Linked DNA regions of Homo sapiens: region 2 is linked to region 1. The links come from fine-mapping of genetic effects on gene expression. A gene starts in region 1. The other region holds a variant in brackets. All regions are shown on one strand. Distances are between the middles of the regions. Region 1 holds the start of LZTS1 (leucine zipper tumor suppressor 1). Region 2 overlaps LZTS1 (leucine zipper tumor suppressor 1).

Evidence for each region. PIP is the estimated chance that this variant, and not a neighbour inherited with it, causes the effect. A credible set is the group of variants that fine-mapping cannot tell apart.
Region 2: its variant is the best candidate, but not a certain one, in a credible set for the expression of LZTS1 in whole blood (INTERVAL, PIP 0.87).

The regions. Positions count from the first base shown.
Region 1 is chr8:20,301,249-20,306,616 of GRCh38, reverse strand. LZTS1 (leucine zipper tumor suppressor 1) reads left to right here and starts at 2,654. Exons shown (of 4, transcript NM_021020.5): 1 at 2,654-2,877. RefSeq lists a silencer at 2,595-2,664.
Region 2 is chr8:20,248,774-20,254,141 of GRCh38, reverse strand. It overlaps LZTS1 (leucine zipper tumor suppressor 1), which reads left to right. Exons shown (of 4, transcript NM_021020.5): 3 at 557-1,360; 4 at 3,779-5,368. The coding sequence ends at 4,420. Among named protein-coding and RNA genes, the nearest start is that of LZTS1-AS1, 24 kb to the left of the region's middle. RefSeq lists enhancers at 4,033-4,576, 4,577-5,118. The variant C/A (reference allele first, on the strand shown) is at 2,161.

The sequences.
Region 1 (5,368 bases):
ATACCCTTTGCCTGACTCAGTCATTCCAGGAAGGCTGCACATCATACCCAGCTTTCACCTAGAATGTCACTGACAAAGGTGTCAGTGCTGAAGGAGGGTCCTTAAGGAGTATCTTCTCATCCAAACCATCCACTTTCCAGATGAGGAAACTGAGGCCTCATCAGGGACTCCAAACCATCCACTTTCCAGATAGGAAACTGAGGTCTCATCAGGGACTCCAAACCATCCACTTTCCAGATGAGGAAACTGAGGCCTCATTAGGGACATGGCTTGTCCAAGAGCATATAGTCAGCAGTAGGGCCAGAACAAAAAGTGGGCTTCCAGAGTCCTTTGTCTCTTCCATGGAATCTCACCTCCGACGATGTGAAAATGAGTTTGAAGTCTGGAGCCCACCTCATACCTTAATCTACCTTCCAGGAGTCTGCTCTTTCCTTAAAGCGCTGGAATGTTTGATCGATATTAACTCATTCAGCTAAAATTCTTGAGATACTCTCACCAGCAAGCAAGAATACATGTTCTCTGTCAATAAATGCAACACAAAGAAGCATGGCGCTTTAGAAAAAGAAGACATTATTTTGCCCTGGACGATAAGAGAAGGTGTGAGTAAGGGTTCCATATTTTGTCTCAGATTTTGAGAGGTAGAGTTAGAAGAGCAGGAGAAAAGCTTTTCAGACTGAGGGGCAGGTTTATACAAAGGTGGGGAAAAGGAGGTGATGTTCAGGAAAAGGCTGAGTAGCCTTTGGGGTTGACACTTAGAAATTGTCGTATTGCTTGTAATTACTGCCACGTGTATGTACTTACCGCAAGGCAGTGGGTTTCATTTAATCATCAGAACAAACCTATACATGAGAAATTCATTCATTTAACAAATACATATTGAGTGCCTACTATGTTGCCTGGCAAGTTCTAGGTGTCGGGGATACATCTATGAATAAAACAGACCAAGTCCCTCAGCCACCAATAAAAGAGAACAAGTTCCTGCCTTCAGGGAATTTACACTGGGACTTGTTACCTCATTTCACAAATAAAAAAAGAAAGAAAGAAAAAGAAAAACTGAGAAAGAGGGAGGGGAAGGTAATGGCTCAAATAACAAGCAGCGAAGCCTGTCTGTGTTCTTAAACCCTCGCGGTGCCATCTTTCAGGAAGCCTAGATTCGAAGGTCAGAGTCTTCAGGGTCAACAACCGAAGGCAGTGAGATTCCCCTACAGGGTTTTGAGCAGGGGTGTGGCAGAAACCATATGGCTTGTTTTCCTTTGAGCTGTCCCCCCTGCCACCACAATTCTATTTAATTTTTTTGTATTTATTTATTTATTTATTTATTTTGAGACACGGTGTCACTCTGTCACCCAGGCTGGAGTGCAGTGGCACTATCTTGGCTCACTGCAACCTCTGCCTTCCAGGCTCAAGCAATTCCCAAGCCTCAGCCTCCCAAGTAGCTGGGATTACAGGCTCCTGCCACCACACCCAGCTAATTTTTGTATTTTTTTTTTTTTTTTTTTTTAGTAGAGACGGGGTTTCACCATGTTGGCCAGGCTGGTCTTCAACTCCTGACCTCAAGTGATCCACCAACCTCGGCCTCCCAAAGTGCTGAGATTACAGGCATGAGCCACCGCGTCCGGCCCCCATGCTATTTATAATCAGATCGGCTATGTCAATCCTAATCCATTACATCTATCCCCCACCCCCCAACACACACACACACACACACACACACACACACACACACACACAGGCTTCTTTCAAGATGAGGCTAACACTCCTTGGGCAGAGCTGCCATCTTCCCGCCAAGCCTGGTTTTAGAGGATTAGCCTCAGTGCACCCTCAAGCCCCCAAGCCTCATGCTGCACCTAGCACTCCGGTTAACTGACCCTTTGTCCTACAAAACCTTGTAAGCTTGAATCCTCTCCTGGCTCAGTTGCTAGAAGTTAAAAGTGAGGGTGGTTGAGAAAATGATAGTATTATAAGGGGACTGGGTGAGACTAATAGCTATAAACTTGAAACAGGCCTCTGCTGTCACCTGAAACTCAGCTCCCTCAGAGCTGGAAAAGTTTGCTTTTGACATGTTTTGGGAGTGGGAGTCCCGGTGCTCTGGACTCTAGCCTGTAATCCTGGTGTGGTTCGCAATGCCCCTCACTTGGGTGCTAGTCCAGTCCTTGAACAAAACACACGCCCTTTAGTGCGAGTCGGGAGCGGGAGAGACGGTATTAAGAAAAATAAACTGGCGATTAAGAGGAAGGGGTAATGAAGAAAGGGGAACATACACAGAACGGGAGAAGGAATGGATTTTAAACAAAACTGGAGTAAGAATTTCAGGTAATGAAAGGGAAAAAAGGATGCGACAAGAGCAAGACAGGAACAATCGGAGAAAGGGGGCCAGGCAAGAAAGGAAGACTGAGGGGGCAGGGTCGCCCAATGGGGCTGATGGAAGTGAGAGCAGAGAGACGGGACCCGGGACCCCGCGCAGGCCGCGGGCGCGAAGGAGCCGCGAGGTCGCGAGCAGCCCCAGCTGTCAGCCCGGAACAAAGGCCGCCGAGCGGCACAGACCAGGCTGCCGGCAGCTCGCTGCCAATCAGCGGCGCCGGCTCTGGCCCCGCCCCGGGCCGGCCCCGCCCCGCCCCGCCCCGCCCCGCCCCGCCCCGGCTCCGGGACCCGCGCAGAGGCCGGCGCGCCTGGAGCTGGCGGGTTGGCAGCGGCCGGGCGGGGAGGCCGAAAGTTTCTCTGCCCGCCTCGGCCAGTGAGTGGGAGCCGGGAGCTGCATCCCGCGCAGTGGGACCGGCCCGGCCCGCTCAGCAGCTCTGGAAAAAGAGAGACGGGAACACACCGGGAAACACTGGGAAAAAAAAAAAGTCTCAAGTGCGCCCGAGGCGCAGGGGGCAGGTAAGGTGCGGTGGCCGGGGATCTCCTCGCCCCTGGAGGGTCTGCTGCCCTGGCTGCGGGAAACCGCTTTCCCCTCGCCGGGCCGGACCGTCCGTGCGTCCGCGCGTCCGTCGGTCTTTGTCTGTCTGTGTCCGTGGCTGTCGAGGTGTCTTTGTCTCCGCGTGGAGCTGTCAGGGTCTCCCCTCTGCAGGGTGGGCGCCGCTTCTCCGGCCCGGCCCAGAGGAGGTGACTGTGCGTCTGTCCTCCTGTCTTTGTCTTCGTGTCTCCTGCAGACGGGGTTCGTCTATTCCCAGCACCGATGCTGATCCTGGCGGGGACGTCAGTGTTAGGTGACACTGGTGTCGGAGGTGAAGAAGTGGGAGGTGGGGACGCGAGGCCGCAGGAGCAGGGGCCGCAGGAAGAGGGTCCGGCGGTCGGTCCGGGCCGCTGAACTTCGCCGCCTGGAACTTTGCAGATGAGCTGTGTCCACACCGGTGGGGAGGACACCGGTGCGTTGCAGCCAGAGATTTGAAAGGTTTCCCTCAAGGAATAAGTCACACGGGCGGAGGTGGTTAGAGAGGAAGGTGGTAAATCGAAGTGTCTAAGTGGCTCCCTGGGGCTGCAGCTTCCTGGGGTCGGTCCTGGATGTGCAATTCAGGAATTTAGTCAAAGCACCATGCACACACAGACAGCCCCACACTACCTTCACTTCTTCCACCGCCACCCTAGGCAGCCAGACCTCACCCCTCCACCCTGCCACAGGCTTTGCTCTGGCTGGAGGGGCTTCAGAGGTCGCAGCTTGGCAGCAACAGGCATCCCCGAGACACCAAGGGCCAGGTGATGTCTCTTTTTCGTGCTCCAAGTGGAAAGGTTTGAACTGTGGAGCAAATGAGCCTTGTGCTCGCCCACGAGTATGTCAGGCCTGGGAAAGTGCTCCAGACTTGTTAGCTTCGCAGTCTTCAATTTCCCAGGAATAAGAAGTGCTTAGGGATCTGGCCTCCTAAAGTGTTTCCTGTCTCACTTATTCCCTCCACACCGTCCCGCTGCCATCAGCCCCTCTACTCTCTGGTCCCGGGCGCTGGGAAAGTACTGAGGAGGCACTGAGTTCTGGACCATGCCGGGCAGGCGCTGCTCCTAATAAGGATCCCACACTCTGCTGGAAGTGCAGCCTAATAGGAATGCTGGGAGCCCAGGAGCCCAGCCACAAAGAGATGAGCTATCTGCTTGGCAGTTCCTGCACCAAGACCCTGAGAAGAGTCTGCGGGTACCGGCAAGAGGGTGTTTGCAACCTGAGCTTTCTCTAAGTTCAAAAACAATTTTCTGCAGGCATCCAGAGGGAGAATGGAGGTGCCCGAAGAGTGTGCGCATATGGGTATTAGAGATAGCATGTACAGACGGGAAAGGTGTTTGTGTTTAAGAGTGGAGTGGAACATAGTCTGTGGGTAGAAGTCTGTGGGCAGAGAGCATGCAGGCTAATCAGGCGTGGCGTTACACCTTGTATTTATCCAGCGCTTTTCTTTGGAGGCTCTTTCTGCTCATCATAGACGTTATCTCATACGTTATCTCCTTTATCCTCACAACATAACTACCAGGTTGGTGCGGTGGGCTCTCTGTGCCTGCCAGTGAAGAAACGGAGGCGTCAGAAGGGAAAGGCTTTCCCTAAGGTCCCACAGCTAATAGGATGGAGCAACTGGGAGTCCTAGTAAGAGGTCTCAGCTGGGTGGATGTGAGTGTGGGGCGCTCACTCTGCTTAAGAAGAGAAGAAAACTAGTAGAAAAAGAACGGGCATCTCTGTGGGTGTCTATATGCAAGCAAAAGGGAGGGCGGGACATTTGATGTGCTGAAGATGGTTGTTAGTTAACATTTATAGCAGCGGCTGTGTGCTTCACGAGGTAAACCTGTCTCAGCAGTTCAGCTTGTGCATTTGTGTATCTGCAGGAGGTGCCCCCAGCTGTGTGTGCCTGGGTCGATGTGGGGCAGGGGTGCTGTCATAGAAGGAGTGCTGCTGCGTGGGGTGCCCTGGGGAAAGCCAATGCTTTGGGAGTGTGTGAGGGAAAGATGTGCCTTTCAGTTTTGAGAAGCCGTGGGTCAGCGTGTATAGCAAAGCTATACATGGGCTCCAGACGTATATAAATGGCTTTCTAATCCTGAAAACTTATTTATATGCCTTTGCGCTTATTCAACGTTCATTTCATAAATATTCATTGGGCGCCTACCAAATGCAAGGCTCTGAGCTGTGCAGCGAGGCTAGGAAGATGAATAATGTAATGATGACAGACCTATGGGTAAGCACCTTATAGACCAGTGTAATGGATAATACCGTAACACTTAATGCCAGCCACTAAATCCACTGTGTGCCTGGAACTTTTTATTCATTATCTCATTTAATTTTCACTGCAGCCCTGCGGGGTATGTATAATTATTAGATGAGGAGAGTTAAGTAATTTAGCCAGGCTACAAAACCGAGGGGCAGGGATTTGAGATCAGCTTAGTAAGGTTCTGGACCCTGGCT
Region 2 (5,368 bases), 52 kb after region 1:
CTCTTATGTTTGCATAGAGCATTCAGCTTTTCAAATTAAGGGGCTTGTAAACTGTGAAGCACTCTACCAGGGAAAATTACAGTTTTAAAAAAGGATCGTGATTTGGAGTGAGCCTCCCAACCCTGTAAGGAGGCCAGGTCCGTGTCCTTGCTCCAGGCTTAATGGAAGAGGCAGTGAACAGGAAGAAGGGATGGACCTAAAGAGGGACAGCAAGCTCGGCCAGCCTGATGCCCTAACTTGCCCCACACAGAGACCTAGAGCAGGAGCCTCAAGATGGTATTTATCACCTCGGGAGGGCTGGGGCAAGCTGGTGGCAGGTTGCTATTTCATAGAACAAAGTGCCCAAGTCGCCATTAGGGTTTTTCCTTCCTAAGAGAGATGACATTCAGCTGCTTCAAAGCAACAGGCAAGGTCTGCTGAGACAATTGACCAAGAGGGGTGCTGCGTGCGCTCAGAGAGCCCAGACTGGCTCAAGGTCGGCACGCGTGCCTGGGGAGGGAGGGTGCAATGCGCGCGCAGGGGAGGCATGAGTCACCGCGGTCCTTTTCCTCTACAGGGCTCCGAGAAGGGTGCAGTGAGGCCCACAGCCTTCAAGCCTGTGCTGCCACGGTCAGGAGCCATCCTGCACTCCTCCCCGGAGAGTGCCAGCCACCAGCTGCACCCCGCCCCTCCAGACAAGCCCAAGGAGCAGGAGCTGAAGCCTGGCCTGTGCTCTGGGGCGCTGTCAGACTCCGGCCGGAACTCCATGTCCAGCCTGCCCACACACAGCACCAGCAGCAGCTACCAGCTGGACCCGCTGGTCACACCCGTGGGACCCACAAGCCGTTTTGGGGGCTCCGCCCACAACATCACCCAGGGCATCGTCCTCCAGGACAGCAACATGATGAGCCTGAAGGCTCTGTCCTTCTCCGACGGAGGTAGCAAGCTGGGCCACTCGAACAAGGCAGACAAGGGCCCCTCGTGTGTCCGCTCCCCCATCTCCACGGACGAGTGCAGCATCCAGGAGCTGGAGCAGAAGCTGTTGGAGAGGGAGGGCGCCCTCCAGAAGCTGCAGCGCAGCTTTGAGGAGAAGGAGCTTGCCTCCAGCCTGGCCTACGAGGAGCGGCCGCGGCGCTGCAGGGACGAGCTGGAGGGCCCGGAGCCCAAAGGCGGCAACAAGCTCAAGCAGGCCTCGCAGAAGAGCCAGCGCGCGCAGCAGGTCCTGCACCTGCAGGTACTGCAGCTTCAGCAGGAGAAGCGGCAGCTCCGGCAGGAGCTCGAGAGCCTCATGAAGGAGCAGGACCTGCTGGAGACCAAGCTCAGGTCCTACGAGAGGGAGAAGACCAGCTTCGGCCCCGCGCTGGAGGAGACCCAGTGGGAGGTGAGGCCACACAGGGCTCATGGGTTTGGGTGGTCAGCGGTTTGGCGCCAGTACCCCCCTCTCCTTCTGGTGCCGGCCAATAGCGTGCAAACACAGACCGCGCAGGCAAGCGGGGCTAATGTGCTGGCTTTATCACCCAAAGAAGGGGCTCCCTGCAAACCATGTTGGGGGATCGACTTACATCTGAGCTTCCTCCTGTCCCCACCATCACCCTCATGGCTCCTAGATTTCAGTTTCCCAAGTGAGCCATTAAATCATGAAGCCGGAAGCCAGATGACCAAGGCCCAGCCAGGCTGTGGGCTGACCTCCCTTCCATCAGCTCCCAGGAGGCTCAGAAGAAGAACAAGCCGTGCCTGAGTTCAGGCGGGGCCAGGGGCCCAAGAGAGCACAGAATGCATTTGTTGCTTTGGAGGGAGGGACTGCACCCACTAGTAAGAGGGACCCTATTGGTGGCAGGTTTCAGTGATGGAAGTGGCCACTCCTTGCTGAAGTGTAAGTGGAACTTCTATTTGGTGAGCTGAGATGGAAACCTAGGAGAGGAAGTAAAGAGTCCCCCACTCACACACTTACACACTCACACACACTCACTCACCCGGTCACACGTGGAAATGAGGCATCTGTACCTGACCGTGCTGGAGAACCCCATAACCTCTGCATCTATTAGTGGGAAAGCAGCTTTTCTCACCAGCCTGGTGGTCTGGATGACTCATGGAGTTCAAGCCCATCGTTGAGGCTCTTTACATGCTCGCACCCAGCTTGGTCTGTCCACGTGCCTGCCTCACCCCCAGTTCAGAGTCCAA[C/A]TCTCAGTCTACACGCAAACCCCTGGCTATGTGCAAGTCAACAACCAGTGGTTTAACTTGCCCACTGCTGGCAGCTGTATCACCCCCATTTAACACCAATGGTATTGGTTTTGGTGTCAGCCTGATTTCCGTCATCGACGTTTATGCCCACATCCTCTGACCTCACCCCTGCATGCACCCAGCCCTCCTCTCTCCTGTCTACTGGAGTAAAGACTACCTCACAAATTCACTGCTGTACCCAGTGACTAGTATCATGCTGGCTTGGATGCAGAGCCCAATCCACATCTGTCAAACGAGGAATCATTGTCTTCTCCTCTTGCTCTTCTTCTCTATTTCCACCCCTATCCCCCATCAAAATTTGGCCAAGAGCAATGATGAAAACCGAAGCCACAGGTTAGACCCATGTGTCTCTGGATCTTGGCCATCTGGGGTCATGGGAGACCAAGGCCAGTCTGGCTGAATCTTAAGAGTGAATGAAGTCCAGAGCATGTGGCTCTACAGAATGGATTCTTGGAACTAGCCTGGAAGCCACCTTCACATTTCCTTTCACAGTAGAAATTTCCCCTTGCCCTCAGTGAAACACTGCACAGTCCTGGAGAAAATCCGACCCTACCCAGGATGCGTGCTTGGGACCAAGAATTTCATTCCAAGGCCAACCCTGTATTCATGCCACGAAGGGAGTGACACAGTCATGGCTGAGGCATGGGCCTGGCTTTGAACCTCAGCTTGACCACTTATGATCCAGGTGATTGTAAATACATTAGCCATGGTGGCAATGGGGTATAGTGATTAAACTGTTGGGATCAAATCTCTACTCTTATACTTTATATTTTATATATATATATATATATATATATATATATATATATATATATATATATATTAGCCCTCAGGCTGGTCACTTCACCAGCTATTTGCTATCATAACCTCTCTGTGCCTCAGTTTCATTGATGTAAATTGAGGACTACTAATAGTACCTACTTCATCGGGTTGTAAGGAATAGATGAGCAAATGTATGGCTTGGCACTTAATAACACTACAAATTATTAGTGAAAGTATGTTTATAATAATATACTTCTGTGTGGCTAGGCGTGGTGGCTCACGCCTGCAATCCCAGCACTTTGGGAGGCAGAGGCAGGCAGAGCACTTGAGGTCAGGAATTCGAGATCAGCCTGGCCAACATGAGGAAACCCCGTCTCTACTAAAAATACAAAAATCAGCCAGGCATGGTGGCAGGTGTCTGTAATCCCAGCTACTTGGGAGGCTGAGGCAGGAGAATCAGAGGGGAGGCGGAGGTTGCAGTGAGCCAAGATCACGCCACTACACCCCAGCCTAGGTGACAAAGCGAGACTTCTCAAATAATAACAATAATAATATACTATGTGTCATTATACATGATTATTATTATTTTATCATTTTACTATATAGCCTAGCTCGATAACCTGGGGAAAAGGTCACAGCAATGTTCAGCTTACTTTCAGATTGGACAAAGGCTGGAATGCCTAACACCGGGCCACCGCATCCGGAGTGGCTTGGTTATTTTAGGCAGCTGAGCTGTCACTTCCCTGGGTAAGGACACTCACCTCTTGGCACTCTGTCTCCACCCCACCCTCGGCAGGTGTGCCAGAAGTCAGGCGAGATCTCCCTCCTGAAGCAGCAGCTGAAGGAGTCCCAGACGGAGGTGAACGCCAAGGCTAGCGAGATCCTGGGTCTCAAGGCACAGCTGAAGGACACGCGGGGCAAGCTGGAGGGCCTGGAGCTGAGGACCCAGGACCTGGAGGGCGCCCTGCGCACCAAGGGCCTGGAGCTGGAGGTCTGTGAGAATGAGCTGCAGCGCAAGAAGAACGAGGCGGAGCTGCTGCGGGAGAAGGTGAACCTGCTGGAGCAGGAGCTGCAGGAGCTGCGGGCCCAGGCCGCCCTGGCCCGCGACATGGGGCCGCCCACCTTCCCCGAGGACGTCCCTGCCCTGCAGCGGGAGCTGGAGCGGCTGCGGGCCGAGCTGCGGGAGGAGCGGCAAGGCCATGACCAGATGTCCTCGGGCTTCCAGCATGAGCGGCTCGTGTGGAAGGAGGAGAAGGAGAAGGTGATTCAGTACCAGAAACAGCTGCAGCAGAGCTACGTGGCCATGTACCAGCGGAACCAGCGCCTGGAGAAGGCCCTGCAGCAGCTGGCACGTGGGGACAGCGCCGGGGAGCCCTTGGAGGTTGACCTGGAAGGGGCTGACATCCCCTACGAGGACATCATAGCCACTGAGATCTGAGGGGCTGCCTGGGAAGGCGAGTCTGGGGACCTGGCACTGGGAGGCAGGGCTCTCCCGTGCATCCCCCCTGCTCAGCAATTCAGACCCCTCTGAGAGACGCCACTCCCTGGGACACAGACCCAGGACCCCCGAGGGGAGGGCAGGATGGCCTTTCCTTCCCTCTCTGATGTCCCAGTGCTCACCAGCCCTGCAGCCCACCAGACGTCAGGCCCTGACTCCTCTGGCTTTCCCAGGAGATGGGTCCAGGGGTCTGTCTGCTTTGGTTAAGGGCTCCCTAAACTTTGGCCTTTGTTCGAAATAGATATCCTCTCCCCCTCCTCCAGGGAAGGTGGCCACAGCAAGTACAGCGGCTCCCCTCTGCTTCTCATCCCAACCTCTTTTTCCTCCTGGACACATTGGAATGCCTTGGAAATAGAAAGAAGCCATATATGACCAGAAGCCTTGGAACCAGCCCCATCAGAACCTGAGCTATTTTCCTCTGGCCGCAGAGGTGTAGGGGTGGAATGAGCCGCGGGGAAGCTGGCTTTGAAACCTCAGGGCTGTCCCAGCCCCGGCAAGCCACAGGAAGGAGGGGAGAGACAGGCAGCCCAGCAGTGTGGAGACCCTGCCACAGCCAGAGGAGGGCAGAGGGAGAATCCAAGGGTTGAGAGCCAGTGGCGGGTGATGGCCAGCCCCTGGGGCCCAGCCCCTGTTTACTGGTTCTTGCAAATGGGAGCTGAGCAGCCTCTGGACAGCCAGTGACCTTTGACCTCGGTGACCACTCTTCTTTAAGCCATAGACCCTGAGGCCCTGGGCTGGGTGCTGGGAAGGGAGGGTTGAAACCACCGTGAACCAGAGGGTGTGGCTTTCCAGGCACCCTCAGGGAGCCTCCCCATCTGTCCAGCTGGGGCCAGAGGCTGGGAGTCCCTACCTGCTTCACGTTGGCCGGCGGCTACTCTGGAATGTTTT